5 separate regions of the Homo sapiens genome follow, and all the other regions are linked to region 1. Evidence: fine-mapped expression QTL. A gene starts in region 1. Each other region holds a variant in brackets. All regions are shown on one strand. Distances are between the middles of the regions.

Region 1 (6,015 bases):
CTCTCACACCATGGTGGAAATTAGCACATTTCCCAGAAGACCAAGATAAAAATGCATGTGAGAAGAACAAGAGAACCAAACAGATGGGGCAATAAAATGGAGGCGGAATGAGCTCATCAGGATTCCCAGCACACGGTTTAAGTCCATACTGGGCTCACAGCTGACCTGGGACCAGCCGACATAGTGAATGAGTGGGTGGTTACTATGCTGCAGCATCAGTTACACTAAGAGATTAGGTGGAGCTGATTCACTGCTGCAGATCTGCACGACTTTTCAAGTGGAGGAAAATCTGTGGGCCCTGGTCTCTGCCACTCACATAACCATCCTCATGGGTAGCATGAGTCATACATGCAGGATCTTTCAGGTAGACAAAGTTGTTGTGCTGTGAGTAAACCCAGTATGAGCTTTCGTGTTGTCGAAAGCAGGTTTTAACCACAACTACGGCGTCTCCGTGTATGAAGGTTTACCTGCTGTACTACAAAACGACCCTGCCTTTCCACATTCACCTTTGGCTACAGGTGGTTAATAACACACACAGAAAAAACAAGTTTCTGAAACGTTCCTCACACCAACAGTGATTCCTTCTTTTTCAAACTATCATGCTCTTGAGTACAGCCAAAGCACCTTTAGACAGTTGCGTCTAATCCCCTTATCTTTTTAAAATTATTATTATTATTTTGAGATGGAGTCACGCTCTGTCACCAGGCTGGAGTGCAGTGGCATGATCTTGGCTCACTGCAACCTCTGCCTCCTGGGTTCAAGCGATTCTCCTGCCTCAGCCTCCCAAGTAGCTGGGACTACAGGCGGGCGCCACCACACCCAGCTAAATTTTGTATTTTTAGTAGAGACGGGGTTTCACCATGTTGGCCAGGATGGTCTCGATCTCTTGACCTTGTGATCTGCCTGCCTCGGGCTCCCAAAGTGCTGGGATTACAGGTGTGAACCACCGTGCCCAACCCCCGCCCCTCCCTTATCTTATATGCAAGAAAACTGAAGTCCAGAGGAGAAATGACTTGCCCCAAACCACTTAGCTAGTGACAGAGTTAGAATTAGCACTAGATCCCTCATTCCTAAGCCAGCAGGCTTTTCATTGCACCAGGAAGATAAAATAAAACTGTAAATAGCATGTACTCTGTTAACTAAGCCTCTAATTATACTGCCTCCAAAGAAAATAACATTTCAAATGTCTGGGTCTTTCCATTTGAGCTTTGGCAATTTCACTGATCACTTCTCATACTGGAATCTCTTTTAAGACGTTTAGGAGTAATTATATTGGGATATATGCTATTTTTACTCTTGTACACTGCTTTCTTTGTTCAGGAGGAAATTAGAATTCTGGAAAGATACTTGATTTTGTTTAATTATTAAAGGAACAAGCTTCTACTTCAAGTAGTTGCAAATATGAATGTATCAGTCTGTGTGTCAAGAAAGGATATATGGAACAATACAGGAACGATAATACTCTATTGTCACATCCAATTAAGGGCCACCTAGGTCTACAAGTAAAGAGGAACATCAAAGCTATGAGTGAAAATGGAAAAGTCACATCGTTATCTGAATAATTTTGAAAACGTCTGGATTTGGTGCCTTATGAATCATCTGAAATGTAACAAGGCATAAAGTGCTTTGCAACCCTGTTGCCTTCATTATTGTAATTTGTGCATATGTAGGTTTATTTGAACTTTTTCGAGTTTTCATCCAGCTGAAAAAGGATGTAGGAAGAATGAGTCCAGTCAAGGTCATACTTAACAAGGTGAAACTGACACCTCCTGGGGATGCAGGCTAACAGAAACATGAGCCCATTACTCACCCCAAATCTCCCATCCATACCTTTTTCTGCTAATGAATATTCTTACCTGAACCATCATTACTTCCATTGTCCTCTGCTTTGGATACCTTGCAGACCAGGTTCCTGTCTCTCATTTTTATCCACGAAGAGATTTTCAAGAATAGAACTTTTCTTATAATTTAGCAATAATGTCCTTGAAAACCCCACAACTATTTACATAATAGAAGCTATTGTTTGAAGTGCAAAGCAGGTCAGAATTTGGTTTCTAGAGATTAATCACTGCAGTCTAGTTTATATTATCATAATAATTTCATTTATTTTGGTACAATTTGCTTTCAGAATCAACCTCGGCTTCTGCGCACAAGTGACAAATCCATTTGTTTGTGGTATAATGGATAACGTGATTAATGACCTTGCAACAGGATTTCTTAAAAACATAGAGAGGAAAAGAAATAAAGATTTCCATTTATAAATGTGCAGTAAACCAGCTCAGTCTGTAGCTGTGCACCAAAATCCCTCTGAACTTGTTTTAAGCCACAGATTTGGAGAGATTCTGAAACAAATTTGCTCCTGACTTTTGGGGGTTTCTGCTCATATCTGCTGTCTCCAAGAAGCTGAGGGCAGTGGCCTCACTTCGAGGAAGTGGTGACACTGCGGGCCCTCCTGGTTACAAGGACCGGGCACTGTTGGACCACGTGGCTCCATCATGATGACTCCAGTTAGATGTCACCCCGCCCCTGAGCTCAGGTCTTGCTGAATAAGGTCACCGCCCAGGGGGCAGTCGATGAACACGCGCGCGAGGGCTCTGCGAGTGGCCTCGTGACTTTGTCCCTAACTCCGGGTGTCCCCTCCTTCCCATCAGCGTCCGGCGCCTGGTCCTGGTCCCGGTCCCCGAGGCCCCCGGGATTCTTCCCGAGCGTTTTCCGAGTTGGCGCGGGGGGTGGAGGCGGGGCCATGGAGCGCGTCCCGGGGACCGTTGCATCCGGAGGCGGCCGTCGTGCGGCTCCTTCCCGCCTCGAGAGTGAGGTGGCCGGGCCTTGACGAGAAGGCCCACGCCTGCCGCGGGGGTGGCTCGCGATGGCAGTCGGGGTTCGAGTCCCGCCTGGGGGGCTGCTCCTGCTGGAGAAAACGCCTCCCTGAGGGCGGCGGCAAACGCGCAGCGAGGCCCCGTGCCGCGCCAGAAGCCACCCTGAGAAAGGGGCACCGGGACACCGAGGGGTTCCCACTTTCTCCTCAGCCTGTGACGCCCGCGTCCTCGGGTGGGTTCGAGGGGCGCCTGGGCACGGCCAGCCGAGGCTCTCGAGAGCCCCAGTGTCGTTTTCCACCTCAGGCCTCCTTTCCTGAGGCAGAGCCCGGGACCTCGCGCTCTCGCCTCAGGCTCCGGCCCACGCTCCCGCCCGGCCGCCAGGCGCGCAACGGAAAGCGCCCCCGCCCCGCCCCGCTCCGCCCACTGCGTGACGCGCACCCGGCCGAGCCAATCAGAGCTCGTGGCGCGCGCCCCACACGCCGGCCCCCTCCGCCCCTCAGCTTAAGAAAGGGCGCGCGGACCCGGCAGGCCAGAGTGCCGAGCAGCGCGGTGGGTGCGGCTGTGAGACGGCAGGAGACTTCTGCCCCGCGGTGCACGCGACCCTCGAGACGACAGCGCGGCTACTGCCAGCAGCGAAGGCGCCTCCCGCGGAGCGCCCCGACGGCGCCCGCTCGCCCATGCCGAGCTGAGCGCGGCAGCGGCGGCGGGATGCTGGCGCTGCTGGCCGCCAGCGTGGCGCTCGCCGTGGCCGCTGGGGCCCAGGACAGCCCGGCGCCCGGTAGCCGCTTCGTGTGCACGGCACTGCCCCCAGAGGCGGTGCACGCCGGCTGCCCGCTGCCCGCGATGCCCATGCAGGGCGGCGCGCAGAGTCCCGAGGAGGAGCTGAGGGCCGCGGTGCTGCAGCTGCGCGAGACCGTCGTGCAGCAGAAGGAGACGCTGGGCGCGCAGCGCGAGGCCATCCGCGAGCTCACGGGCAAGCTAGCGCGCTGCGAGGGGCTGGCGGGCGGCAAGGCGCGCGGCGCGGGGGCCACGGGCAAGGACACTATGGGCGACCTGCCGCGGGACCCCGGCCACGTCGTGGAGCAGCTCAGCCGCTCGCTGCAGACCCTCAAGGACCGCCTGGAGAGCCTCGAGGTAGCGGCCCGCGGGGAGCGCGGGGGACCTGGAATGGGGACGCTCCCGAGTCGGGGGCGGAAGACTCGGGAGGATGGGGAAAGGGGGCCTGGCCCTGGGGAGGGTGTGATCGTCCGTGGGGGTGAGCTGGACTTGAGGGTGAAAGGCGGGGATCTAGATCCTGCTCGGGAACTCCCCTGCGTGGTATCCCTTCCCACACCGCTGCTCTTGCTGGAAGGAAACGTTTAAATTCCACCCCCGCGCGTCGGGACTGCCAGCGGGATCCGCCGAGCACTTCCCGAGGTCCGGGCTAGCGAACCCAGACGGCCAAGCCGCGGGCGCCAAATACCCGGGGACGCGGTAGCCTCTATCCTCTTGCAAATCTCCAAATCTCCGCGAGCCGGGATGCGCTCCCGCAGGCCGTGCGGGTTGCTGCGAGGCTGCCGCGGGAGGTCAGCTGCCCCGGGCATGTGGTGTTTCTTTCTTTAAATCAGGTCAGGCTGAGCTAGAGGGGGCGGAAGTCTGGGGGCGGAGGTCGCAGGGAGGCGAGCGCAGGGGGTCACCGGCGACCCCAGAGCGCGCATTAGAGGGGCAACCTCTGGTTAACTTCAAAGACTCCCGTGTCTGCAAGTTGGACCATTTTAAGGTGCTCTTCCGGATTGCTTCAGGGGAAGGGACCTCATTCCCTTCTCTCTCTCTCTCTCCCCCCCTCCCCCCCTCCCCCTCCGTCCCCCCCCCCCGCCCCCCGCTCCCGCCTCCGTCTCATCTCTATCTCTGAAAATGCGTGCAGTTTGGAACTTTGAGAGAAAAATCTTCAATTATTTTTCATCTTTAGGCTCCACCCTTTTTAAGAAGTGTGGACACTGCTGTTAATAGCCTTTGTGAAAATACTTCTCAGCAAAACTAGGTTTAAATTACAGGTGGTAATTATTGCAAAAATGACTCTAGGGTTTCTTTTGGCGTGAGGGCTGAATACAGTATTTCCAGCATCTGTATATCCCCTGATTCATTGTGATTGCTAACAGCTAACATTTCTGGAGCACTAAATATGAGTCAGGCACATCATTTAATTTTTTAATCCTTGGAACAATGAATGGCATGAGGCAGGTCCCATTATGTGCATTTCACAATTTGGAACACTTTGTGGAGAAAGGTAAATAGCTTGCCATGAACTCATGGGTAGGCAGCCTGCCACAGCCTCCAGAACCACATGATGGTAGGGGAGAAAGAGAAATAGGAAGTGAGGATTTAGAAACAGCATTAAAAACAAAGATTGCTGGAGTTCAGAATAGCAACGTTTTAGATCTGTCATTTTCCAGAAACATCTCTGCATGCATAGTTATTTACCTTGGTGCCAGACCGGAACTTGGGGGCTGTTTTCATTTCTAGGTGAAAGCTCCTTGGCTTTGTGTAACCATCGATTTACTCTTAAAAAAGAAAAAAAATCCTGGAGCTGAGTTTTGGTCTCTACCCAACATAGAATTCTAGGCGTTGGTTAGAATATTGACTTTTTAGTAAGAGGAGAAAAACGGCTTTTTGAGAAGGGAAAATTAGATTCACAAGTTTCAAATATTGCAGCAAAGTAATTCTTATCTGACTTTGAAATCTTTTCCATACCAAAAAAGCATCAGTGAGATGCTCCCCTGCCTGCCAGTGGCAAGATTCAGGGCTTGCGTTTTGGAAGCTTCTCCCTGTGTGGTCGGGCCATCACAGCCACATTTCACAATTTCTTTTTAACTCTTTCTGTGCCCCTCCCTCCTCCCCGGTGGCTGAAAGCACCAGCTCAGAGCAAACGTGTCCAATGCTGGGCTGCCCGGCGACTTCCGCGAGGTGCTCCAGCAGCGGCTGGGGGAGCTGGAGAGGCAGCTTCTGCGCAAGGTGGCAGAGCTGGAGGACGAGAAGTCCCTGCTGCACAATGAGACCTCGGCTCACCGGCAGAAGACCGAGAGCACCCTGAACGCGCTGCTGCAGAGGGTCACCGAGCTGGAGCGAGGTGTGTGCCTGGCCTGTTTCTCTGTCTGGCAGTGGCCTGATTTTCACCACTTGTGGTCAGACATGCGATTCTGGTTGATGGACAGCAGGGATT
Region 2 (6,015 bases), 43 kb after region 1:
GGTGGATGGATGGATAGATGATAGACAATAGATAGATAGATAGATAGATAGATAGATAGATAGATAGATAGATAGACAGTGCAGTGTGTGGAATAGTGTCCTTCAAATTCACGTCCACCTGGAGCTGCAGCATGAGCCCTTACCTGGAGATGGGGCATTTGCAGATGTAATTAATTAAGATGAGCTCACACTGGATTAGGATCATTAGCCCTTATCCAATGACTGGTGTCCCTGTAAAAAGAGGACGGGACACACAGAGAGACATAGACGGGAGGCCCCATGTGAAGACCGAGGCAGAGATGGGAGCCACGTATCTGCAAGCCAGGGATGGCCTGGGGCCACCAGAAGCTGGAAGAGGCAAGGAAGGGGCCTCCCCTGGGGCCTTCAGAGGGAGCGCGGCCCCACTGACATCACAATATCAGACTTCTGGCCTCCAGCACTGTGAGAGGACACATTCGTGGTGTTTTAAGCCATCTGACTTGCAGTACTCTGTCCCAGCCGCCCTAGCAAATGAACACAGACGGCTACTTAAGAGTCCCTCTCCGGTTACCCAGCCCACCCTAGAGGCCACTTTTAGCCAGAGTGTTGGGGCCTTGACCCCACACTGCCTCGTCCCCTCTGTCCTCGCCCCGACCCTGACGCATCAGAGCCGGGACACTGGTGACTTTCCTGGGGAAATCTCTAGATGTGACCTCTATGGCCGGGGACAGGGGACTGGGTTTGAGTCTTGAGTCCTTTCCAGCAAGCGCCTTCCCGCTTGGAGCCTTGTTTCCTTCCTGGATAAATGGGCGGGGAAGCATCACGGAGGTGTGCGGGTTTAATCGGCACATGCGCTGCTGCCTGCAGGCCAAGCTCAGGATAAGCTCTTGCAGTAAATAGCAACGTTTATGTCCCTCGACTCCTGGCTCAGAGACGCGACCCAGGTGGGAACTTGATTCGTGAAACCCATCAGGGAGGAAGAGTCCCGACCTATGCATTGAAGGACGGGGTGGACAGAAAGAAGGAACAGCAGTTAGAAGAGCATTGGCGGGTCCTGTAGCATCTGAGTCCCTGCTTGGACCAGCTTTCTGGGAGTAGGTGTCTGTGGGCTGCAGCCCAGCTTTGAGCACCCGAGGACGTAACACCTTACCACTCTTAGGGTTGACAGATAAAATACAGGATGCCCAGAAATATCTGAATTTCAGATACACAGCAAATTATTTTTTAGTAGAAGTATATTCCAAATATTACATAGGATAGACTTATACTGTAAACTATTTGTTTATCCAAATTCAAATTTTTAAAAATCTTTTCGAAACTAGGTCTCATTCTGTTGCCCAGGCTGGAGTGCAGTGGCACGTTCACAGCTTACTGCTGTCTGGAGCTCCTGGGCTCCTCCCGCCTCAGCCTTCCCAGTAGCTGGAACTACAGTTGCGCACCACCACACCTGGCTAATTCGTTTTTTTAAGTGGAAATGGGGGTCTCACTATATTGGGCAAGCTGGTTTCGAACTCCTGGGCTCAAGCGATTCTCCAGCCGCAGCCTTCCAAAGTGCTGGGAATACAGGCATGAGTCACTACGCCTGGCCCTGGATTCAGATTTAACTGGGTATCTTGTATTTTTATTTGCAGAATCTGGCAACCATACCCGCCCCTTAGCTGGCCCCCCTCCACTGATGACTAATGGCCAGGTGTAAGACAGTCTTCCGAAGGGGCCGTAAGACCACCATGGGCTCAAGATAGACATTGAGTCCTGCCCTCGCCCACCTCCTCCTCTCTCCACCTCCACATCTTGGTTTCTTGTCCTCCGTGTGCAAAATGTGCTTTCCTGCCCCACCTACGTCTCCACATATGAAGAATCAATAACAATTTTAGAGAGAAAATACAGTTGTCATGGAAAAAAAATGGAGTGAATTCAGAGTTCATTAGGCAAGTTAATCAAATTGTCCAGCCGTGTCTTGCTATTTCTGGGAACCATCTGGCCCGCCTGATCGATGTGATTCCAGGTGGGAAGTGTTTGGGAGTGAGGGTAACCGTGACTTCTCTGAGGTCACAGCACGGAGATGCCAGGTAACCGGATGGGAGGGCTTGGCATGTCCCTGGGAGGCACTGGGAATGCATTGTCCCATGCCTGGGCAGGGGCAGCTTTGGCTGGGACCCTCCATTGGCACACACACCCCCCTTTCTCTTAGAGCTGCACATACATAGAAAGAGGAACCAAGGCTGGGCACAGTGGCTCACACCTGTAATCCCAGCATGTTGGGAGGTTGAGGCGGGCGGATCACCTGAGGTCAGGAGCTCGAGACCAGCCTGACCAATACGGAGAAACCCCGTCTCTAATAAAAATACGAAAAATTGGCCAGGTGTCGTGGCGCATGCCTGTAATCCCAGCTATTCGAGAGGCTGAGGCAGGAGAATCGCTTGAACCTGGGAGGCGGAGGTTGCAGTGAGCCGAGATTGCACTACTGTACTCTAGCCTGGGCAACAAGATCAAAATTCCATCTCAAAAAAAAAAAAAAAAAAGGAAAAAAGAAAAGAAAGAAAGAAGAGGAACCAAGAAGCCGCCACTGGCTGAGCAAGGCCTGCTCTTTCACCAGTATTTCTAGGGCTCAGTATTTCTGGGGCTTATGCTCTGTGCCTGCTGCCGTTCCAGGTGACAGTTAATACAGATGAGTCCCTCAGCCTCCCAGGGCTCATATTTCAGCCAGAGAGAGACAATCAGCAAAGAAACAAGGACTTGCAGGAAGACCACCTTCTCCAGTTGCAGGTGGAGCCACGGGACCTGCCCAAGCTGGGCCTACTCTGTTGATAGCAAAATGTCAAGTTTTATCTTGTAGCTATAACAGCTGTAAGTCATGTAGCCAAGGCATGAATGGTAGAAAAAGCTTTGAGGCTGGGTATGGTGGTTCATGCTTGTAATCCCAACACTTTCAGAGGCAAGAGGATTTCAAGGCAAAAGGATTGCTTGAGTCTAGGAGTTTGAGACCAGCCTGGGCAACATAGTGAGATCCCATCTACTCAGAAATTTTAAAAATTAGTTGGGCATAGTGGCACATGCTTTGTTGTCCCCATTCCTTGGGAGGCTAAGGTAGGAGGATCACTGGAGCCCAGGAGGTTGAGGCTGCAGTGAGCTGTGATCATACCATTGCACTCCAGCCTGGGCAACAGAGTGAGACACTGTCTTAAAAAAACAACAACAACAACAACAAAAAAGGGTGGTGGGGGAAAGAAGGAACAAAAGAAAAAGCTTTGACCTCTAACAACACTGGGAATCAATAATTTCTCCCCTTGGAACCAAGAAGACTGGGACATGACAAAAAACCTAAATACTGAAATTCGTCCACAAGCGAGGGTCTGTTGGCCCAGAAGATCTGGGGCTAAAATCCACTTCAACATACCTGACTATAAATTGTCCATTTTGAAGCCTTCCAACCAGATCCTGCCATGCCAACATTCCTAAATCCTTTCTCTTGCTCTTTGATCCCTTAGAATTTGCCCCAGACTCCAAATTAGAGAGACAGATCTGAGTCTGCCTCCTGTCTCCTGGCTGTCTTACAGTAAAGCCCTTGCTTTTCTCTAAAGCTGTGGCCATGGTATTGGCTTTTGTGCGCCTTGGAGAGCGAGCACATTTGCTCAATGACAGACGACTGCCGGCCCTCAGCCTCC[A/G]CTGACCCCCAGGCTTCTTGGAAGCCCAACCCCCTCATTTGTAGGGGTGAGTGATACGGGTCTCAGTCTCCGTGGATGCCAGTGCTAAGTAAATCCAGAACTTGCTCAACTGGCACGGCAGAGGCCCATGCTTTCTGGAGCACTTGACCCCAGAGTCAGAAAGCAGGCTCACATTCAGAGTCAAAAAGCAGGAGACAGAGTGAGACCCCGTCTCAAAAAAAAAAAAAAAAAAGGTAATTTCATTTTAAAAAGAAAGTCTCCTAACAAATTTATAATATAGATTTCATGATTCTTTTGTTGGCACTTTCAACAATGTTGGCAACAGCGTTCAAGCTGTCAGGGACTTTTGAGATTACACAGTAGACATAGTTAGGGGTGCTACCCAGCCTGTGTGCCCAGCCTCCCAACTGAAAATACCCAGATTTCTGGCCAGGCAGAGTGGCTCACACCTGTAATCCCAGCACTTTGGGAGGCCAAGACAGGTGGATCACCTGAGGTCAGGAGTTCGAGACCAGCCTGACAAATATGATGAAACCCCGTCTCTACCAAAAATACAAAAAATTAGCTGGGCGTGGTGGTGGGCGCCTATAATCCCAGCCACTTGGGAGGCTGAGACAGGAGAATCACTTGAACCCGGGAGGCAGAGGTTGCAGTGAGCTGAGATCGTGCCATTGCACTCCAGCCTGGGCAACAAGAGTGAAACTCCATCTCAAAAACAAACAACAAACAAACAACAACAAAAAAAATCAGATTTCTGCTCCAGGACTCCCTCTTCCCCTGTCTCTGAGGTGGACCCTGTTTGACTTTGATCTGACTCAATTCATTAAATTCTACTGGTCCGGCCATGGGGATGGTGACCTTCTCCAGCCAGGATGGCACAACAGGAGGTTCTGCGAGGCCTTGGGGGAAGTGAAGCCCCAGTGCAATGGCAGCCCTTTTGTGACCATGAGGGAAACCAGCCTTCAGTGAAGCTGACTCTGGTGAGGTAGCGTGGAGGGACCAAAGACACCAGGGCCTTGGTGTTGTCAAACAGCTGAATTGAACCTGACTTTGAAGCCCACCCATTCAGGAATTTTCAGTTTTGTGAGCTAATAAAGATCCTTTTTATTTAAGGATGTTATGTGTGAGGTTTCAGTTCCTTACAACTTAAGAGTACTGCCCGATAACACTCCTTCACTTCAGCTTTTTCCACAGAGGAGGGACTTGAGACTCCCAAGGGAGAGCAATGTGCCCGAGGTCTCCCAGCTGATCTGTGGCTCCCAGGCCAGTGCTGCCCGTGAGTCCTGCAGCCTGTGAGGACAGCTCCAGGGACGAAAACACAAGTGTCCCCTAGGGCTCCCACCAGTGAAGCATCCCCTGAGCCTCTCACATGCACGGGACAACTTCATGCTTGTCCTTCTCACCCTCAAGATGGTGCCACTCTTGGCTTGACGCTTGGGCTCCTTTGGGGGAGAGAAGGCTACCACTGGGTGACAATGTCACACACTGCTCCCCCAAGGCCCTGGCTACAGCCTGAGCTCTCTGGGTGGCCTGGGACAGCATAGTCTGGGAGGACATCTGGCATAGCCCCTTTCTGCCCTGGCCCCTGCACTGCTCCTCAGGTGGGGTGGCAGCTTGGGAGCGGAGGTGAGGAGCAGCAGACCACATGGGTGACTCACAGTCCCCCAGGAAACAGGTGCACCCTCACTCCAGAAGGGGCGAGGGAGGCAGGGGGACAAGGGTTGAAAAACTAACTATTGGGTACTATGTTCACTATTCGGGTGATGGTTTCACTAGAGGCTGGGATTTTTGCAGAGACTGTTTAAGGAGGGGCGGGGGTTATTTGCAGAGGTGAGGGACAGATAGAGAAATCAATCAGTATGGGACAGTTCTCTGGGTGGGCTTGGATGGTCTCAGTTCTCCCCCCGACCTCTTTCCCACTCAGAATGCAGGAAAGACAGCTGAAACAAGGAGGAACCAGCTAGCACAGCCCAGCCTCTGTTCCAACCCCCAGCCCCTAGAAAGAGGTTGTCCTTCAATGCTTTTTTTATATTATTATTATACTTTAAGTACCGGGATACATGTGCAGAATGCGTAGGTTTGTTACATAGGTATACACGTGCCATGGTGGTTTGCTGCACGCATCAACCCATCATCTACATTAGGTATTTCTCCTAATGTTATCCCTCCCCTAGCCCCCCACCCCCCAACAGGCCCCAGTGTGTGATGTTCCCCTCCCTGTGTCCATGTGTTCTCATTGTTCACCTCCTACTTATGAGTGAGAACATGCGGTGTTTGGTTTTCTGTTCCTGTGTCAGTTTCTTCAATGCTTTTGTCCAGTGCGCCATGTTTCTCCAGGGCATAAAACCCTAGATGGGCTGATTTTCAGTGT
Region 3 (6,015 bases), 190 kb after region 1:
GAGCAAACCACATCTCTTGGAAGCTGACTCATGGGAGGAAGATGGGAAACATCTCCAGGTGGTTCACAAGCATTATCTTTTCCCACAGACCCAATACTCATGTTTACTATCTGGGACCCCCTTTCCTGGAATGGAGCCTCCTGGCAAGCTGAATGAATGATCAAAGGAGGCAGTGGGAGTTGGAATCAGAGGGGAGAGAGATGTGTCATCCTGGCCAGTTGTGCTGGGCCAGTCCCCAGAGGAAAAGAGTTTTGTAGTAGCCAAGCCACAGACAGGACTGGACAGGGCCGAACATGCACCCCCAGCTCATGTCTGAGGTTCCATCTTCGTGGCCATGCACTTGTACTTCCTTCAGATGGATGAAGCTTCATGGCAGATGCTGCCGGAATCACATTCATATTCCCTTTGGCCTTACCACTTCCATGCAGGCCACTGGGCTTCCAACTGCCAGCCTGCATACCTTGTGGCCTGATGGCTTTCTCTGACCACCAGTGCCTGCTTGCCTGTGCTTGAACACATGACTGCCCAAAAGCCCTCAAGGGGTGTTGGAGTATCAGTTGCAATTGGGACACAGGCCAAGTCCTGAGAGTAAGCATTTCCAAGGGGGACAAGAGGGATTTTCCTGGTTTGCTCCCCTAAGAACTATTCCTTGCTTTTATGTCCTCTCCATGATGACTCTAACAAATCCTGATTCAGGTTTATATATTGTTTTTGTTTGTTTGTTTTTTTGTCCTCAATCAATGCTGGCTGAGACTGTTGGAGTATCAGTACCCCAGCTCCCTCACCCCTGGAGTAGATAACTCTGAAGTGTGTGTCTATGCTGTCTCCCAGAGCTTCCTGGCAGCTTTGAGCTCCAGCTGCCCATAGCAGTAACTTCCTTGATAATTTGCTCTTTATTGGCTGCTTTCTATGTCCAGCCTCACTCCATCCCCCCTCTTCCTGGAGAAGGCCACCTCCAAATAAACTATGTGCCTCTGACTCCTTGTCTCAGGGTCTACTTCTTGGGCAACCCAAACTGAGATAAGCTCTCATCCTCCTCTGAGACAATCATTTAATCTCAACCATTACCTGTTGCTTCTTTTTTTTTTTTTTTTAAGACAGGGTCTCACTCTGCTGCCCAGGCTGGAGTGCAGTGGCATGATCATAGCTCACTGCAGCCTCCAACTCCTGGGCTCAAGCAATCCTCCTGCCTCAGCCTGCTGAGTAGCTGGCACTACAGGCATGCACCACCATGCCCAGCCAATTTTTTATTTTTTGTAGAGAGGGGGGTCTCACCATGTTGCCCAGGCTGGTCTGGAACTCCTGGCCTCAAGTGAGCCTCCTGCCTCGGCCTCCCAAAGCACTGGGATTACAGGAGTGCACCACTGTACAGAGAGCAGCCCCACCTTTGCTCTTTCCCCACATGTGCTTTATCAGGGGTGTGGTTAGCAAGGATGGGGAATAGCAGGGGCACTTCAAGATTGGGGCCTCTGAAAACTAGGCAGCATGGGGACAGAGCTGCCTCCTCTTACCGGCAAAGAGAAGGTGCAAATCAGAAGTTTTAACATATTCCTTAATTAGAGCCTGATTTTGTTCTCAGCTGCCCAGCCGTGTGGGGCCCGATAACACCAGGCAGCATTGTTGTTTTTATGCTTATGAGGCAGATCAGCTGGAAGAGCGCATTCCAAATGAGATTACATCTTATACATGTTTAATGTACTGTTCTCGCCATTTAAAATGCAGCTCTGTTAAAATAGCAGGGAGGGAAAGTTGACTCATGGAGCTGGGTGTGGAGACAATAGATCACTAGTGAAATGAATAATATATTAACAGAATAATGATGTTGCTTCTCATATTAATCGTATAAATCACAAGATTCTTGGGCTGTCAGCAGAACTTTAAAAAAAAAAAAAAAAGCAGACTTCTGGTTTTCCAGCCCACGGAAGACTGAGGCCCATAGGGCATGAGGTTCCTGGTGACCACTCTGGTTATGAAACGGAGGTTTTCTGGGCATGCTGAGGAGGCTGCCAAGGACCCAGAACTTTCCCTGGAGGCAGCAGTGATGTTGTAGGAAAACTGCAACTCAGCCCCAGCCTGCATCCCTCACTGATGTCAACTGTTTACCAAGGATATGAGAAGGTTGGGTGCGATGTGGGCCCTACCCACTGGCCGGGGAGGCAGAAATATATACAGAGACCAGGCATGGTGGCTCATGCCTGTAATACCAGCACTTTGGGAGGCCAAGGCGGGCGGATCACTTGAGGTCAGGAGTTCAAGACCAGCCTGGTCAACATGGCAAAACCCCGTCTCTACTAAAAATACAAAAATTAGCCAGGCATGGTGGTGCACGCCTGTAATCCTAGCTACTTGGGAGGCTGAGGCAGGAGAATCACTTGAACCTGGGAGGCGGAGGTTGCAGTGAGCCGAGATCTCACCATTGCACTCCAGCCTGGGCGACAGCTGGACTCCGTCTCAAAAAAAAAAAAAAAAAAAAAAGAAAAGAAAGGAAATATATACAGATCATTCCAATGACATGATACAGGTTAGGTCAGTCCCTCAACAGCCAGGTGTCCCCCACCTGACTGGGGACACGTCAGATAATGCTGGGTCCCCAGTACCTAGCCAGGACTTGATACACAGCAAGCATCCAATGGTGTCTGTAGGTTTTGAGCTGCAAATATGTGTAGAATAACACCAGGTGGATCAATACCTTCCTCCCAGTGCTCTTGAAAGAGGAAGAAGGTCCTGTGGAAGTATCAGGAACAGGTGAGTTTTGTGGGGGTTGCGATGTGTGGGGCAGTAAGGATCGACTGTGGTGATTGAAATTGTTGCAACGGACGTTACCTGCACGTGGAATTTCTGCACAAGAGCAGAGAATAGAGAACTCAGTCCTCGGTAAATATAAACCAGTGGTCTATAATCCCAGCACTCTGGGAGGCTGAGGCAGGAGGATCGCTTGAGGCCAGGAGTTTGAGACCAGCCTGGGCAACATAGCGAGATCATGTTTCTACAAAAAACAAACAAAGAAAAACAATATATAAACCAGAGTCAGGATTCATTACAGTCATCACGGAAAGGACATAAAAGCAAGGAACAACTCTCAGGGGAGCAAACCAGGAAAATCCCTCTTGTCCCCCTTGGAAATGCTTACTGTCAGGACTTGGCCTGTGTCCCAGTTGCAAGCCTGAGTGGACCACCAGGGCTTTAGGTGGCCACGCTGATATCTAATTGTTTAGAACGTGGAGAAGAAAGTCTCCCCACTCAAGCTGAGAACAGAAATCCTGGGATTTACAGAGCATCAGCACTGCCCTCTGTGACACCTGGCCCAGGTGACTGGTCACAGTCACGCACTGGGCCTTACCTGCACTCA[T/C]GTTCACAGCCAGCAGGTGCTGTGCATGTTTTCCCACTTTAGGGAGGCAGGAGCTGAGGATGGCAGACAGCAGGGGATGTGCCCCAGTCTGCCCAACTGCTAAGTGGCTGGGCTCAGTTGGGTTATTGAGCATGTACTTACAACTCTCCAGCCCCATTGATGTTGGGCTCAGCCAGGTGACCCTGCCAAGGGGAATGTGAGCCAATGCAAGCGTGGCAAAGGCTCAAAATGTGCTGGGGTCCAGGTACAGTGGCTCATGCCTGTAACCCCAGCACTTTGGGAGGCCGAGGCAGGTGGATCACTTGAGGTCAGGAGTTCGAGACCAGCCTGGACAACATGGTGAAACCCTGCCTCTACTAAAAATAAAAAAAAATTAGCCAGGTGTGGTGGCAGGCAGCTGTAATCCCAGCTACTTGAGAGGTTGAGGCAGGAGAATCACTTGAACCTGGGAGGCGGAGATTGCAGTGAGCCAAGATTGCGCCACTGCCCTCCAGCCTGGGTGACAGCTGAGCAAGACCCTGTCTCAATAGGATTAGATAATACCATCAGGGTGAGGGGCCCCCGTGATGGAACTGGTGGCTTTCTAGGAGGAAGAGAAACCTGAGCTGACACACTCTTGCCCTCTCCCAATGTGACACCTTTCACCATGTCATGATGCAGCAGGAAGGTCCTCACCAGATGCTGGTGCCATGCTCTTGGAATTCCCAGCCTTCAGAACCATGAGCTAAATAAACATCTTTTCTTTGTAAATCACCCAGTCTGTGTTTTCTGTTATAGCCACAGAAAACAGAAAAAGACACAAAACATCACTTGGGTTGTTGAATGTGCTCAAGCACCATACCCCACGGCTGTCCACAGCAGTGACTGCTCAGGGCTGGTGCCACAGAGAGCCTGGGCTGGGGGAAGCACTCAACCCGTTTGGGTCACTGCGGCTATTAATGCTATTGTTGCTGTGCTGGACTCCCTTCCCTGCAGAGACCACATCTGAACGCAGATCTCTGCCCCATCCTGGGAAGATGTAAGATGCTGAGAGGCAAATCATCTCCATGGCAACCAAACCCACCCCCCAGAGAGGGGGGTCAGTGAATTCCAGCTTTACAGGCCGCAGGAGAACAGCTGAAACCCACAGGCTGGAGAAACTGGGACACAGGCCAAAAACGTGGCTTGTGGCACCAAATGGATCACAAGCTCCCTAGGCCCCTGGGGAGCAGCCAGAGCCAGAGAAAGCTGGGAAAATAGGCCAAAGCGTACGCATCCCATCTGTACACCCTCTGCCTCCTCTCCCACTTCCCAATGCACCACAAAAGGCTCTTGCAAGGACCAGAAGCCTAAGGAGGTCTTAGGCTTTGTGTGAAAACAGCTGTAAGCTGTGGGAGCCAGGAGCAGACAAGAGGATCCCAGAGAGCTGTGGGGGATGCCGTCTCCAGGGTGGAGAAAGAAAGAAAGGAATCCTTGCCTCCTGGGTGGCTTTTCTGCAGACGTGAATGCCTATCTCTGCTAACCAGGGGTGACTGACCACCAGCATCCGTAACAATGCGGAACAGATTATAGTGTATGGAGCTCTGCCTCCAGGCAGGAAAATATAGAGAAACTGAGGCTCAGAAAGGAAACCAGGTGGCTTCAATGTCACCCAACAAGGCAGGGCAGAGCTGGAGGCAGATTCAGCTGTCCTAACTTCCAGACCAGCCTACTGTTACTTTTCCAGTGAAATCATCTAGTGAGATTTTCTTAAATCCCCCTGCCCAGGTCTCACCCAACACCAAAGAAATCAGAGTGTCTGGCAGTGGTGGTGGTGGTGTGGTGGTGGGTGGTGGTGGTGGCTGGTGGTGGTGGGTGGTGGAGGTGGTGGTGGTTGGCAGAGGTGGTGGAGGTGGCGGTGGTGGTGGTTGTTGGTAGTGGTGATGGTGGTAGTGGTGGTGGTGGTGGTGGTTGGTAGTGGTGATAGTGGTGGTGGTGGTGACGGTGATGGTGGTAGTGGTGGTGGTTGATAGTGGTGATAGTGGTAATGGTGGTGGTGGTGGTAGTGGTTGGTAGTGGTTGGTAGTGGTGATGGTGGTGGTGATAGTGGTGGTGGTGGTGGTGGTGATGGTGATGGTGGTGGTGGTGGTGGTAGTGGTGGTGGTGATGGTGGTGGTGGTGGTAGTAGTGGTGGTGATGGTGGTGGTGGTGGTAGTGGTGGTGGTTGGTAGTGGTGATGGTGGTAGTGGTGGTGGTTGGTAGTGGTGATAGTGGTGATGGTGGTAGTGGTGGTGGTTGGTAGTGGTGATAGTGGTAATGGTGGTGGTGGTGGTAGTGGTTGGTAGTGGTGATGGTGGTGGTGATGGTAGTGGGTGGTGGTGGTGGTGGTGATGGTGGTGATGGTTGGTGGTGGTGGTGGTGGTGGTGGTGGTGGTGGTGGTGGTGGTTGGTAATGGTGGTGTTGGTGGTGGTGGCTGCAGCACTGAGGTTTTGGCGAAGTCCAGGGGATTCTGCTGGGCAGTCAGGGCTGCTGTGCTGCCTCCTGGTCATTGCTGACCCACTCCCTGGCCAGCTTGATTTATCTGCTTCAAAAATTCCTGATGGTATTTGAAAACTGATTTTTTAAACATTAAGATTCAATGTACATTTATTTATTTATTTATTTTTGAGATGGAGTCCTGCTCTGTTGCCCAGGCTGGAGTACAGTG
Region 4 (6,015 bases), 110 kb before region 1:
CTGTCTGAGAGCGAAGACGATGACATAATTCATGGAAACACTGTCAACTGTGGCTGGTGGTTGGAAAGGTCCCAGCTGGGTCTCCGTCTAGTGCTAATGATTTTGCAGCAACATAGGGCCTCAAAGGAGCTTAAATGCAACACTCTCCAAGTTCAAAAGGGAGAACATAAAATTTCCATCAAAGTAACATTGTAGTGAGAGCCTCCTTTTCCCTGAGGCTGATTGGACAAATTACATTCAATACTTTTGAGTTCTTCCTGGCTAAAGATGGAGGTCATTGACAGGAACTTCTTTTTTCTTTTCTTTTCTTTTCTTTTCTTTTCTTTTCTTTTCTTTTCTTTTCTTTTCTTTCTCTCCTTCCTTCCTTCCTTCCTTCCTTCCTTCCTTCCATCCTTCCTTCCTTTCTTCCTTCTTTCTTTCTTTCTTCTTTTTTTTTAGATAGAGTCTTACTCTGTTGCCCAGGCTGGAGTGCAATGGCATAATCTTGGCTCACTGCAACCTCTGCCTCCTGGTTCAAGCGATTGTCATGCCTCAGTCTCCTGAGTAGCTGGGACTACAGGCACACATGACCATGCCTGACTAATTTTTTTTGTATTTTTAGTGGACACAGCGTTTCTCTATGTTGGCCAGGCTGGTCCTGAACTCCTGAACTCCTGAGCTCAGGCAATCCACCTGCCTTGGCCTCTGAAAGTGGTAGGATTACAGGCATGAGCCACCAAGCCTGGCCTGGAACTTTATATATATATATTCCATAGAGATGGAATCTCACTATGTTGCCCAGGTTGGTCTCAATCTCCTGCCTTAAGTGATCCCACTTCAACTTCTCAAGTAGCTAGGACTACAGGCATGTGCCACCATGCCTGTCTAATTTTCTAAAACAATTTTTTTTTGTAGGGGGGTGGTATCACTATGTTGCCCATCCTGGTCTTGAACTCCTGGCCTCAAGCAGTCCTCCTGCCTCGGCCTCCCAAAGCACTGGGATTACAGGCATGAACCACCGTGCCAGGCCAGGAAGTTTTTTTAAGGTTGATATCGGTGGCCTTGCAGGCAATAAATAGTAGAGGGTAAACCCAGCAGCATAGCCAGGCTGAGCCCTCAGAGAGTCCCAGTGCATTTGGAAGGGGGATGGAGAAGCCAGACAGAGCTGGTTCAAACCCCTGTCTGTGTCTTCCTTGTATGTGACCTGGGCACATTACTTAACCCTTTGTGAGACTCAGTTTTCTCTCCTGTACAATGGGAACAATGTATCCCTTGCAGGGCTTTAATGAGGAACAAGGATATTCTATGTGATATGCTTGACATTGAATTGGTTTCCAGCACAGACTATCAACTCTGCTAGGACTCTGTGCATTTTTTTTTCTTTTCAGATGGAGTCTCGCTTTGTTGCCCAGGCTAGAGTTCAGTGGCGTGATCTTGGCTCACTGCAACCTCCAGTTCCCAAGTTCAAGTGATTCTTGTGCCTCAGTCTCCTTAGTAGCTAGGATTGCAGGCGTCCGCCACCATGCCCAGCTAATTTTTGTATTTTTGTAGAGACGGGGTTTCACCATGTTGGCCAGGCTAGTCTCGAACTCCTGATCTCAAATGATCTGCCCGTCTCAGCCTCCCAAAGTGCTGGGATTACAGGCGTGAGCCACTGCACCTGGCTGGACTCTGTGCCTTTTGAACAAGGTGTCAGGTGGAAAAATATTTTCCTGGATGTCTGCCCTCCCGTGCAATGCTTCTGAGAGCTCTGAGCCCCACCTGCCCCGACAGAGGCACCCTGATGACCTCCCCTGCTGGTGCCCATTTGCCCTGTTCCCCTGCAGAGTGTGACCTGTGATGCAGACCAAGGAATTCCCACCATAAGTGAGTCCCCGATGGGCTGCCCCTCTTAAGAAGGCCCCATGCAGGCTGGGTGTGGTGGCTCACACCTGTAATCCCAGCACTTTGGGAGGCTGAGGCGGGCGGATCACCTGAGAGGTTGGGAGTTCGAGACCAGCCTGACCAACATGGAGAAGCCCCGTCTCTACTAAAAATAAAAAATTAGCCGGCATGGTGGTGCATGCCTGTAATCCCAGCTACACGGGAGGCTGAGGCAGGAGCATCGCTTGAACCTGGGAGGCGGAGGTTGTGGTGAGCCGATATTGTGCCATTGCACTCTAGCCTGGGCAACAAGAGCAAAACTCCATCTCTCCATCTCAAAAAAAAAAAAAAAAGAAAGAAAGAAAGAAAAGAAAAGGGAAAAAGAACGTCCCATGCAAAAGGTGGTGGAGTGCGAGTAGGCTGGGGAAGCTGGGTTGATGGGCTCCTGGAGTGTGCAGAGTGATTGACACCTGGAGGCAGGAGAGAGGCTCTGGTCAGCTCCCATGCTGAGGAGCTGGAGAAGGTGAATGAATGTTGTGGGGAGGGTGGGGAGGGAGTGTCTTGACAAGCGTAGACTTTTTTTTTTTTTTTTTTTTTTTGAGAATGGATCTCACTCTGCTGCCCAGGCTGGAGTGCAGTGGCGCGATCTTGGCTCACTGCAACCTCCACATCCCAGGTTCAAGCAGTTCTCCTGCCTCAGCCTCCCGAGTAGCTGAGATTACAGGCGCCCCTCACCACGTCTGGCTAGTTTTTGTATTTTTTAGTAGAGACGGGGTTTCACTATGTTGGCCAGGCTGGTCTCGAACTCCTGACCTTGGGTGATCTGCCTGCCTTGGCCTCCCAAAGTGCTGGGATTACAGGCGCGAGCCATCGTGACTGGCCAAGTGCAGCCTTTTGAAGTCTGTCCTGGGTTGAATTGTGTACCCCCCAAAATTCATGTCCTTCCTGGACCTCAGAATGTGACTTTATTTGGAAACAGGGTCATTGCAGAAGTAATGGAAGTAATGAGTTAAGGTAAAATGAGATCGAACTGTGGTAGGGGAGCCTTTGATCTGACACAACTGGTGTCCTTATCATCAGAGGAGGACACACAGACACACAGAGGGAAGACAGGCATACAATGACAGAGGCAGAGATTAGAGTGGTGTATGCACAAGCCACTGTCCTGCAAGGATTGCCGGCAGCCGCAGGCAGAGGCAGGCGGATCGCCTGATCCCAGGCATTCAAGACCAGCCTGGGCAACATGGCGAGACCTCATCTCTACAAAAAATGCAAACATTAGCTGGGCATGGTGGTGCGAACCTGTAGTTCCAACTACTTGAGAGGCTGAAGTGGGAGGATCACCTGAGCCTGGGGAGAGTGAGGCTGCAGTGAGCCATGATTGTACCACTGTACTGCACCTGCACCCTGAGCAAGAGTGAGACCCTTTCTCAAGAAGCCAGGAAGGAAGCAAGGGGCAGATCTTCCCCCTGAGCCCCCAAGAAGAAAACAACCTTGCAACAGCTTGAGTTTGGTGTTGTTCTGAGTCACCT[A/G]GTTTGTGTCACAGGAAACTAAGACAGACACGCCCAGAGGGTGTGAGGAAGAGGGTCTGCAGAATCGGCTCTTGGGGCCCCCCAGGCAGAACAAGGAGGAGACAAGCTCTAGAAAACTGCATACATTGGATGAGACAGCAAATAAACCAATTGGTATAAGGAAGCACACAGGTTGATAGCACACAATACATTCAGAAACAGTTTCCCATATGCATGAAAATGTTTGGCATTTCAAATCAGTAGAGAAAAAGTGGGATTATCCAAGACATGGTATTGAGATAACTTAGCACAGTCTGAAAAACATGGAACTGGGGTCCCTCTGTTGCTCCTTATGTAAAAATGAATTCTAGATGGATCAGAGAATTAAATGTCTTATCAAAAAAAAAAAAAAAAAACAAAGCCACAGCTTCCAGGACGGTGGAATAGACATACTTTTCACAATTCCTCCTTTGCAGCTAAAACCTTTGAATATTGGATGTAAAACAAACAGATGAAGACTCTGAATGGTGGGGAGAGAAGGCAGATGGGCTGGGAGTTCAGAACTCAAGGAATGGCCTGGCAGTGAGGTCCCTGGGTTTTCTTCTTGTCTCATATATCCCAGACTGCGTTCTGAAGAAGTTGGCAGCCTAGAAATGCCAACAGGTACAGGTTTTTTTTTTTAAACACTCCAAAAAAAGCCTGCTTTTTTAAGCCAAATGACTAGAGGAAAGGGCCAGGAAAGGGACAGCCTCATGAGATTAAAAAAAAAACTTTGGGCTAGAGGTGGTGGCTCCCACCTGTAATTCCAGCACTTTGGGAGGTGGAGGCAGGTGGATCGCTTGATCCCAGGCATTCAAGACCAGCCTGGGCAACACAGCGAGACCTCGTCTCTACGAAAAATACAAAAATTAGCTGGACATGGTGGTGCAAACCTGTAGTTCCAGCTACTTGGGAGGCTGAGGTGGGAGGATCACCTGAGCCTGGGGAGATTGAGGCTGCAGTAAGCCATGATCATGCCACTGTACTCCAGTCTGAGTGACAGAGTGAGACTCTCACTCAAAAAAAATCCCCAAACTTTAGGCAATAACCTCTGCACTCCAGCCAAATAAGGCTGAAAGCACTGAGAACCTATGCCCACTCCTGCCAGCAAAGGCCAAGGGTAGATCTCAGACTGTCACCTTTTTTGGTTGTAATGAGGCACCCTAATCCAGCCCTTCACTGAGGTGGTGGCAGGGAAGCCTCCAGTGAGGACTGATACTTGCATTCCTGCTGGGTGCTCATGAAAGCCGCTCCCTCTGCAGGTTTGGTGGACACCCTTGTGGAACCTAGACTGACACCCCCACCCAGTGATAATGAGGCACCCCTTCTCCTCCCTGTTGGAGTGATTCGAAGGAGTTCTGGTAAAACAGAGGGTTTAAATAAGATCCACAGTCTTGTAACATATTATAAGAGTGATTTCAACTTAAGAAATCACTCATTATACCAAAATCGAGAAATATCTCAACTCGAATGAGACAAAGCAATCAACAGACACCAACACTGAGATGGCACAGATGTTAAAATTATCTGAAATGGATTTTAAAGCTGCTGTCATAAAAATGCTTCCATAATTGTGAACCCACTTGAAACAAATGAAAATGTAGACTGTCTCAGCAAAGGAATAGGAAGTCCTGGCAAAGAAATAGAAGATATGAAATAGAAGATATGAAAAACAACAAATGGAAATTTTATTTTTATTTTTTATTTTTATTTTTACTTTTTGGTTTTTGAGACGGAGTCTGGCTCTGTTGCCCAGGCTGGAGTGCAGTGGCACGATCTCAGCTCACTGCAACCTCCACCTCCTGGGTTCAAGCAATTCTCCTGCCTCAGCCTCCTGAGTAGCTGGGACTACAGTCACGAGCCACCATGCCTGGCTAATTTTTGTATTTTTAGTAGAGACAGGGGTTTCGCCATGTGGCCCCGGGTAGTCTCGAACTCCTGACCTCAGGTGATCCCACCTGCCTTGGCCCTCCAAAGTGCTGGGATTACAGGCGTGAGACACTTCATCTGGCCCCAAATGGAAATTTTAGAACTGAAAAATACAGTAATCAAAATGAAGCCTCAGTGAATGAGCTTGACCACAGAATGATGGGACAGAGGAAACAAGTGGCAAACTTGATAAAAGAATAATAGAAATTACCCAAGCTGAACCACAGGGAGAAAATGGGCTTGTATAAAGCCTCAAGGATCCATAGGATAATAATAAAAGATCTAACATTAATGTCATAGAAGTCCCGAAAGGAGAGTAGAAAGAGGTTGGGGCTAAAAACTCTTCAAAGAAAGAATGGCTGAACCCCCCCACCCCCACCTAATGTGATGGAAGACATAAACCTGCAGGTTGAAGAAGCTTGGTAAACAAACCCCATCAGGAAAATGCAAAGAAATATATTCCAAGACACATCATAATCAGATTTCTAAAAAACATCTGGAACACAATGAGAGAAAATAACACTTCATCTATATGAAAAAATAATTCGAATTATAGCAGATTTCTCATTTGAAACCATAAAGGCCATAAAAGAAGAAGCACAACAGTTTTCAAATGCTTACAGAAAAGAATCGTCAGCCCAGAATTCTACATGAAGTAAAAATGTCCTTTGGAAATGAAGAGGCATTTAAGACA
Region 5 (6,015 bases), 48 kb before region 1:
ATCTGATCCAAATCCACTCTGAAAACTTGTGATTTCAGTGAAGATAGTAAGCAGAGACAAGTAATGAAGGCCTTGCCTTTCTCATGGGGAACTCAGGAGGAGGTTCCTTGGGACCCAGGGGTCCTACCTCATGGCCTCTATGTGTCCAAAGAGTCAAGATCTATTTAACTCCAGCCTCAGTCAGACCTCAAAGGCTGTTCCCAAAAGACCATTCGAAATTCAAGGGATGAACTGGGGATCAGTGTGTAGAACAAGTGAAATTATTCCAATGAAAGATTTAGTGATGTCTGGTTTGCTCCTATCAGTCATATTTCATATAGTTTCTCTGATATCGCATCAGAAGAATACTAAATAGGGAGTTTGGTTGTACAACTTTAATAATGCCAGCCAAAGAAAGGGAATACATTTGAGGATCTATGAGACTCTGGCAAGCAGAATATTTTAATATTTGGCAGTATCTTTGTTCAGCAGCGTAATTAACCCCCTGCTATGGACCTGGCATTATGCTAATTGCTATCAGGGCTGCTATAATGTGAATGTGTCCCCCAAAAAGCATGTGTTGGAAACTTTATTTCCAATGCAACAGTGTTGGCAGGTGGGCCTAATGGGAGGTGTTTAGGTCATGGGGTCTCCACCTTCATTAATGAATTAATGCTGATTATGAAAGTTTTGAGGCTGCAAGTTTGATCTCTTGCTCTCCCTAGCCCTCTCTTTGCTCCTCTGCCATGAGATGACACAGCAAGAAGGCCCTTGCCAGATACCAACCCCTTGATCTTGGACTTCCCAGCCCCCTAGAAGTGTGAGTCAATAAATTTCTGCTCATTATAAATTACCCAATCTCAGGTATTCTGTTGTAGCAGCACAAAATGGACTAAGTCGGGATCTAAACATAACAGGTGCCTGATAAAAGCTCATTGGGTGGATGGTTGGATGGATGGATAGATGGAGAGATAGATGAATGGATGGATGGATAGGTAGATGGATAGATGGATGAATGAGTAAATGACAGGGTGAAGAAGGGGATGTGTGTCATGTCCTCAAGTCATCACGGTGACACTTCATGCCTCCTTTGCATGTTGTAATGGACAGAGCATTCTCATTTACTCCTCTTGTGTACATTCTGTGATTGAGTCCATTACAGCATGTGAACATCTGTCTGTCTGTCCTTCCTCTAACACCAGAGTGAGGCCTAAGGATTTGCTAGTTTCCCTATGAATAGCTTTGCTTTTCTGTGTTTCAGTCCAGTTCCTTTGGCAGAAATGACAACACGGTGTCTGGGGAGAGTTTAGCCCCAAATAGACTTTCTGCCTCAGATAATAGCAGAAGCTTTCATTTCACTTAGTTTATTAGATTTAGCCCTAGGTGGAAGGGTGAGCTACTCCCTACTCCTAGAGGATTTGTACCACACTACAGAAAAATCCCAAGATGACACATAGGGAAGGAAGTCCAGGGCAAAGCAGTGCAGAGACTATGGGCACTTTTCATTTGAGGGAATTGTGCAACCAGGGACAGCTGTTTCCAAAAGTCTTTGCTGAGACACGCTACCAACATCAGAGTTGAAATCCAGGTCGACTAATTAACCTTGGTTCCCATGACAACTAGCAGCGTGCACCCATCTGCCCCCAGGCAAGAAAGCATCTCTACAAGTGGCCTTGGGGAGAGACAAGAGGCAAAGCATCAGGGAGGAATATGAGAGCTGCCACTTCTGCTGTCCTGGCCAGGACTACAGAGGTCCTTTAAGAGGGTGGAGTCCAAACTGCATTCCTTCCACATCATCCTGAATATTGGGAAACGGAGGCCATGAAATTCCCAGAGGAATCCGTTAAGGCATGTCTATTCCCATAGGATCCCTGTACATTCTGGGAGATTCGTAGGTCCCAGGCAGCCGTGACCCTGGCAGGGAGATGGAAAAATTTAGTCTCGGGACGAGAAACCGAGGCTGTGGCCAACCCCATCTAATTATCTTTCACTAACTTTGTGATGTTTGGAGAATGTCACACTGGCTTTGAGAATGTCTCAGTTCTTGGGTCCTGTGTTCCAGAAGAACCTATTAATTGATAGAGGGGCGGGGGAGGGTGGTGTCTTAGCTCCTATTTTATTTATTTATTTATTTATTTATTTATTTATTTATTTTTGAGACGGAGTCTCGCTCTGTCACCCAGGCTGGAGTGCAGTGGCACAATCTCGGCTCACTGCAACCTCTGTTTTGTGGGTTCAAGTGATTCTCCTGCCTCAGCCTCCCGAGTAGCTGGGATCACAAGTGCGTGCCACCACGCCCCCGCTAATTTTTGTATTTTTTGGTAGAGACAGGTTTCCCTATGTTGGCCAGGCTGGTCTTGAACTCCCGACCTCAGGTGATCCACCCACCTTGGCCTCCAAAGTGCTGGGATTACAGGTGTGAGCCACCGCACCCGGCCCTTAGCTCCTATTTAAATGTATATATATATTTAGGTTAGTTAATTTCAGAGATGGCAAAACAAAAAGAAAATGTGTGTGCATCGGAGGGAACCTTTGATCCACAGCCACCGGCCTGTGCTTGGAGACATTTCTGGCTCGTCTTCAAAATTCTGTGCTAATTGACATTTGTCTTTTTCTCTGTGAAGCCCGCCATCCCCAGGTCATTAGGACATTGGGTCTGGGCTGTAGTTTCTCTCCCATCAGGGCCAGACACTGCAGCAATTATCATAAAAGACAGTCGGATAAGGAACTTGCTTT[G/A]TAGGCTTAACTAAATTATTAGACTCCTCTTGTGACCAGAAAGACTCTCCTTTTATTTGGCACTGAAAAGTTCTCAGGCATGTGTCTGCACAGAACAAAAGGCGCCTAGACATCTTTATTTCTGCCCAACTCCTTTCCCTACCCCAAAACGCTATCTAGAAGTAAAAGATGACACATGCATTACAGAAACAAAATGACTCCCCTGACAATGGGAGCCGCAGTCTGGAAGATACATCTGAAAAGAGTAGTGAGAGGACCTTATTTTTCTGATTCTATGTTGTCTGAGGAAGCTTTTTGTTTGTTTGTTTTGTTTTTGAGACAGGGTCTTGCTCTGTTGCCCAGGCTGGAGTGCAGTAGCATGATCAGGAATCACTGCAGCCTCAAACTCCTGGGCTCAAGCGATCCTCCCACTTCAGCCTCCTGAGTAGCTAGGATTACAGGTAATGTGTCACCACACTTGGCTAATTTTTGTTTCTTTAGAGATGGGGTCTCTCTATGTTGCCCAGGCTGGTCTTGAACCCCTGGCTTCAAGCAATCCTCCTGCCTTGGCCTCCCAAAGTGCTGGGATTACAGGTGTGGGCCACTACTTCTTGTCCTGGGGAAGCAATTTTTAAGAAATGTCCCATCTTGATGCAGTGTAAGGTTTTGAAATATTTGCCCCCAATTACCGCAGTGGTGGGCAGGATGTGGAATAATTTGGAAATAAGGAAAAACTTCAGGAAAGGTGGAGGGGAAGTACTCGTGGCATAAAGTTAGGGGCACAAGTCCCAGGCAGCAAAGCTAATGGGGCTTAATTAGTGGCCAGAGCTGGATCCAGAGCCGTGTCCCTGGCAGGCAGCCAGAACACAGCCTCACTTAAGGCCCGGGAATCCCTCCCTGCCTCATGAAGCTGAGTCTCTGGTCTCTGATCATGGCTTACTCCTCCCAGATGACGGCAGCATTGACGGTGAGTGTGTGTGCCCCTCAGCTCACAGCCAGGACGAGCCTATTAAAAATGCCCCTGCAGACCCCAGGGGCCACCCATTAACCTCAGAAACAAGGAGAAATAGGGGCTGGGTGCGGTGACTCACGCCTGTAATCCCTGCACTTTGGGAGGCTGAGGTGGGCAGATCATGAGGTCAGGAGGTCGAGACCAGCCTGGCCAACATGGTGAAATGCTGTCTCTACTAAAAATACAAAAATTAGCCGGGAGTGGTGGTGGGCACCTGTAATCCCAGCTACTTGGGAGGCTGAGGCAGGAGAATTGCTTGAAACCGGAAGGTGGAGGTCACAGTGAACCGAGATCACGCCATTGCATTCCAGCCTGGGCGAAAGAGCGAAACCCGGTCTCCAAAAAAAAGAAAAAAAAGAAAAAAGAAAAGAAAGAAAGAGAAAAAAAAAAAGAAACAAGGAGAAAGAAAATCCGTGGCAGCAGGATGGATCTCTGTCTTCCTGTTAGTGTTTTGGAGACGAGGAGGGTAGCTTTTTGTGTGTGTGTGTGTATTGAATGTCTGGCAGAAACTGAGTAATAGCTGAACAGAACAGTCAGGGATTCAAGTGCTCACTTCTGAATGGTTCTCAGGCAACAGGCACAGTGCCTGCTCCCAGAAACGGCTCTCTCTGCAAAGACGAACAGAACACAATGGCCTCCTTGTGTGACATGCTAAATTCGAGCCCCATACGGAGCCGGGAGCAGAAGTCGCAGAAGCACATCGGGTGGGACAGAGGGGCTCCTCTAGGAATTATCTGGTCGGGGCATGAGCAGGTGGCTGGACTTCTGGCCCCTTTATGGCCAGAAGACCAATTCTTGGCTGGTCTCTAAGCAAACAAAGGGAGCAGCACCTTGTCAGCGGATGTGATTTTTGTGACATCTGTTCCGCAGCCCCCATCAATTCACACCCAGCGTCTGCGTGACTCATGTCCTTGAATTAGCCATTGTTGGGCCCGAGGGAGGCGAACGGGAAAACCGAACGGAAGAAAGGTTTGGGGAAGGGAACGTTCTGTTCTGTCCTCCAACGATAAGCGCCTGTTTGGCAGCGTCATGGCAGGGACAATGCAGAGATGGCCTTGAAAATTCTCAGGCTGTCGGTCAGGCTGAGGGGCAAAGAAAAGTCACAGGCAGCTGACAGTGGGAAGAGCAGAGCAAGGATTCATTCATTCATTCATTCATTCATTCATTCGTCAGTGGTTTATCAGCTTCTCTCTGTGACAAGCACCCTCCTAGGCACAGTAGGTGCCCTGGTGATCAAGACAACCACCCCTCTCTTGGAGCTGAAGCTTCATGGGGAGAGAGACGTTGAAAATTGGTGCTGAAATCACCAGCCTTTGTGCAAAGCCAATATTCAACCCCACATAGGTGTTTGAGAGAGTCAGAAAAATTCCATCATAGGGGCCGCATGGCCTGTCTCACATGTGTAATCCTAGTGCTTTGGGAGGCCAAAGGGGGAGAGTTACTTGAGGCCAGGAGTTTGAGACCAGGCTGGACAACAGAGCAAGACCCTGTCTCTACATAAATTTTTTTAAAAAATTAGCCAGGCGTGATGGTGTGTGCCTGTAGTCCCCGTGGCTCAGGAGGCTGAGGAAGGAGGATCGCTTGAGCCCAGGAGGTGGAGGCTGCAGTGAGCTATGATTGCACCACTGCACTCCAGCCTGGGCAATAGAGCTAGACCCTGTCTCTAAAATAATACAAATAAACTAAAAATAAATTTCAAGATGAATAATATATGGTTCCTGCCCTGGAGGAGTAACACTCCCATGAAGCAGCTACCTGGGGGTCTCAGCAAGGCATCCTGAAAGAACAGGGCAGTAAGGAAAGGGACTCCCCTTGCAGAGTTGAATTATGGACTTGAGATGCCCTGCATCAGAGCGGAGTAGGCAAAGTCACTTTAAAGAGAGAGTCCTCAGTCAGCAGGACTATAATTGGATTTAATGTATAACTTATATAAAGAAAGATTGTGTTGAGAGGAAAGAAAGTCATTGGACAGGACCCCTCCCCCACCTCTCCCAGCTCTGTCTGGGGAGAGTTGGCACCCTGGTCCAACCCCAACAGCAGGCACATTTGCATGGCGCAGAGACACTTCCAGGCTAGCTGCGGTGGGCAGGTTGCATTATTTGCATACAATTCTTCCTTCCTTCCCTGCCCTCGTCATGGTTTCCCTTGGTATGGGCTTGCTTTAGCCAATGGAAGGTTAGCGGATGTAACCTAAGCAGGGGCTTGACATCTGCAGGTTTAAACATATGAGCTTCATTGGCCTTATGGTGGGCTCGCAAGGAGGGGTTGATACTCCAAGAACCAAGGCCTCTGCCTGGCTCTGCTTGGCT

Which allele goes with the higher level. Alleles are on the strand shown, and positions count from the first base shown. SD is a standard deviation of normalised expression in the study named. Not every link is listed here.
For the expression in tibial nerve of the gene that starts at base 3,348 in region 1, G is the high allele of the variant in region 5 and A is the other (small effect, 0.29 SD a copy in GTEx).

Evidence for each region. PIP is the estimated chance that this variant, and not a neighbour inherited with it, causes the effect.
Region 2: its variant is the best candidate, but not a certain one, in a credible set for the expression of NPTX2 in tibial nerve (GTEx, PIP 0.80).
Region 3: its variant is the best candidate, but not a certain one, in a credible set for the expression of NPTX2 in aorta (GTEx, PIP 0.60).
Region 4: its variant is the best candidate, but not a certain one, in a credible set for the expression of NPTX2 in whole blood (TOPMed, PIP 0.50).
Region 5: its variant is the best candidate, but not a certain one, in a credible set for the expression of NPTX2 in tibial nerve (GTEx, PIP 0.62).

What each region holds. Positions count from the first base shown.
Region 1 is chr7:98,613,938-98,619,952 of GRCh38, forward strand. It overlaps NPTX2 (neuronal pentraxin 2), which reads left to right and starts at 3,348. Exons shown (of 5, transcript NM_002523.3): 1 at 3,348-3,950; 2 at 5,706-5,922. The coding sequence starts at 3,525. RefSeq lists an enhancer at 4,176-4,802.
Region 2 is chr7:98,657,233-98,663,247 of GRCh38, forward strand. It overlaps LOC105375419 (a long non-coding RNA gene), which reads right to left and starts at 372. Exons shown (of 3, transcript XR_927793.2): 1 at 144-372. The variant A/G (reference allele first, on the strand shown) is at 3,645.
Region 3 is chr7:98,805,857-98,811,871 of GRCh38, forward strand. No RefSeq gene overlaps it. Among named protein-coding and RNA genes, the nearest start is that of TMEM130, 61 kb to the right of the region's middle. The variant T/C (reference allele first, on the strand shown) is at 3,350.
Region 4 is chr7:98,500,935-98,506,949 of GRCh38, forward strand. No RefSeq gene overlaps it. Among named protein-coding and RNA genes, the nearest start is that of BAIAP2L1, 100 kb to the left of the region's middle. The variant A/G (reference allele first, on the strand shown) is at 3,375.
Region 5 is chr7:98,565,504-98,571,518 of GRCh38, forward strand. No RefSeq gene overlaps it. Among named protein-coding and RNA genes, the nearest start is that of NPTX2, 49 kb to the right of the region's middle. The variant G/A (reference allele first, on the strand shown) is at 2,716.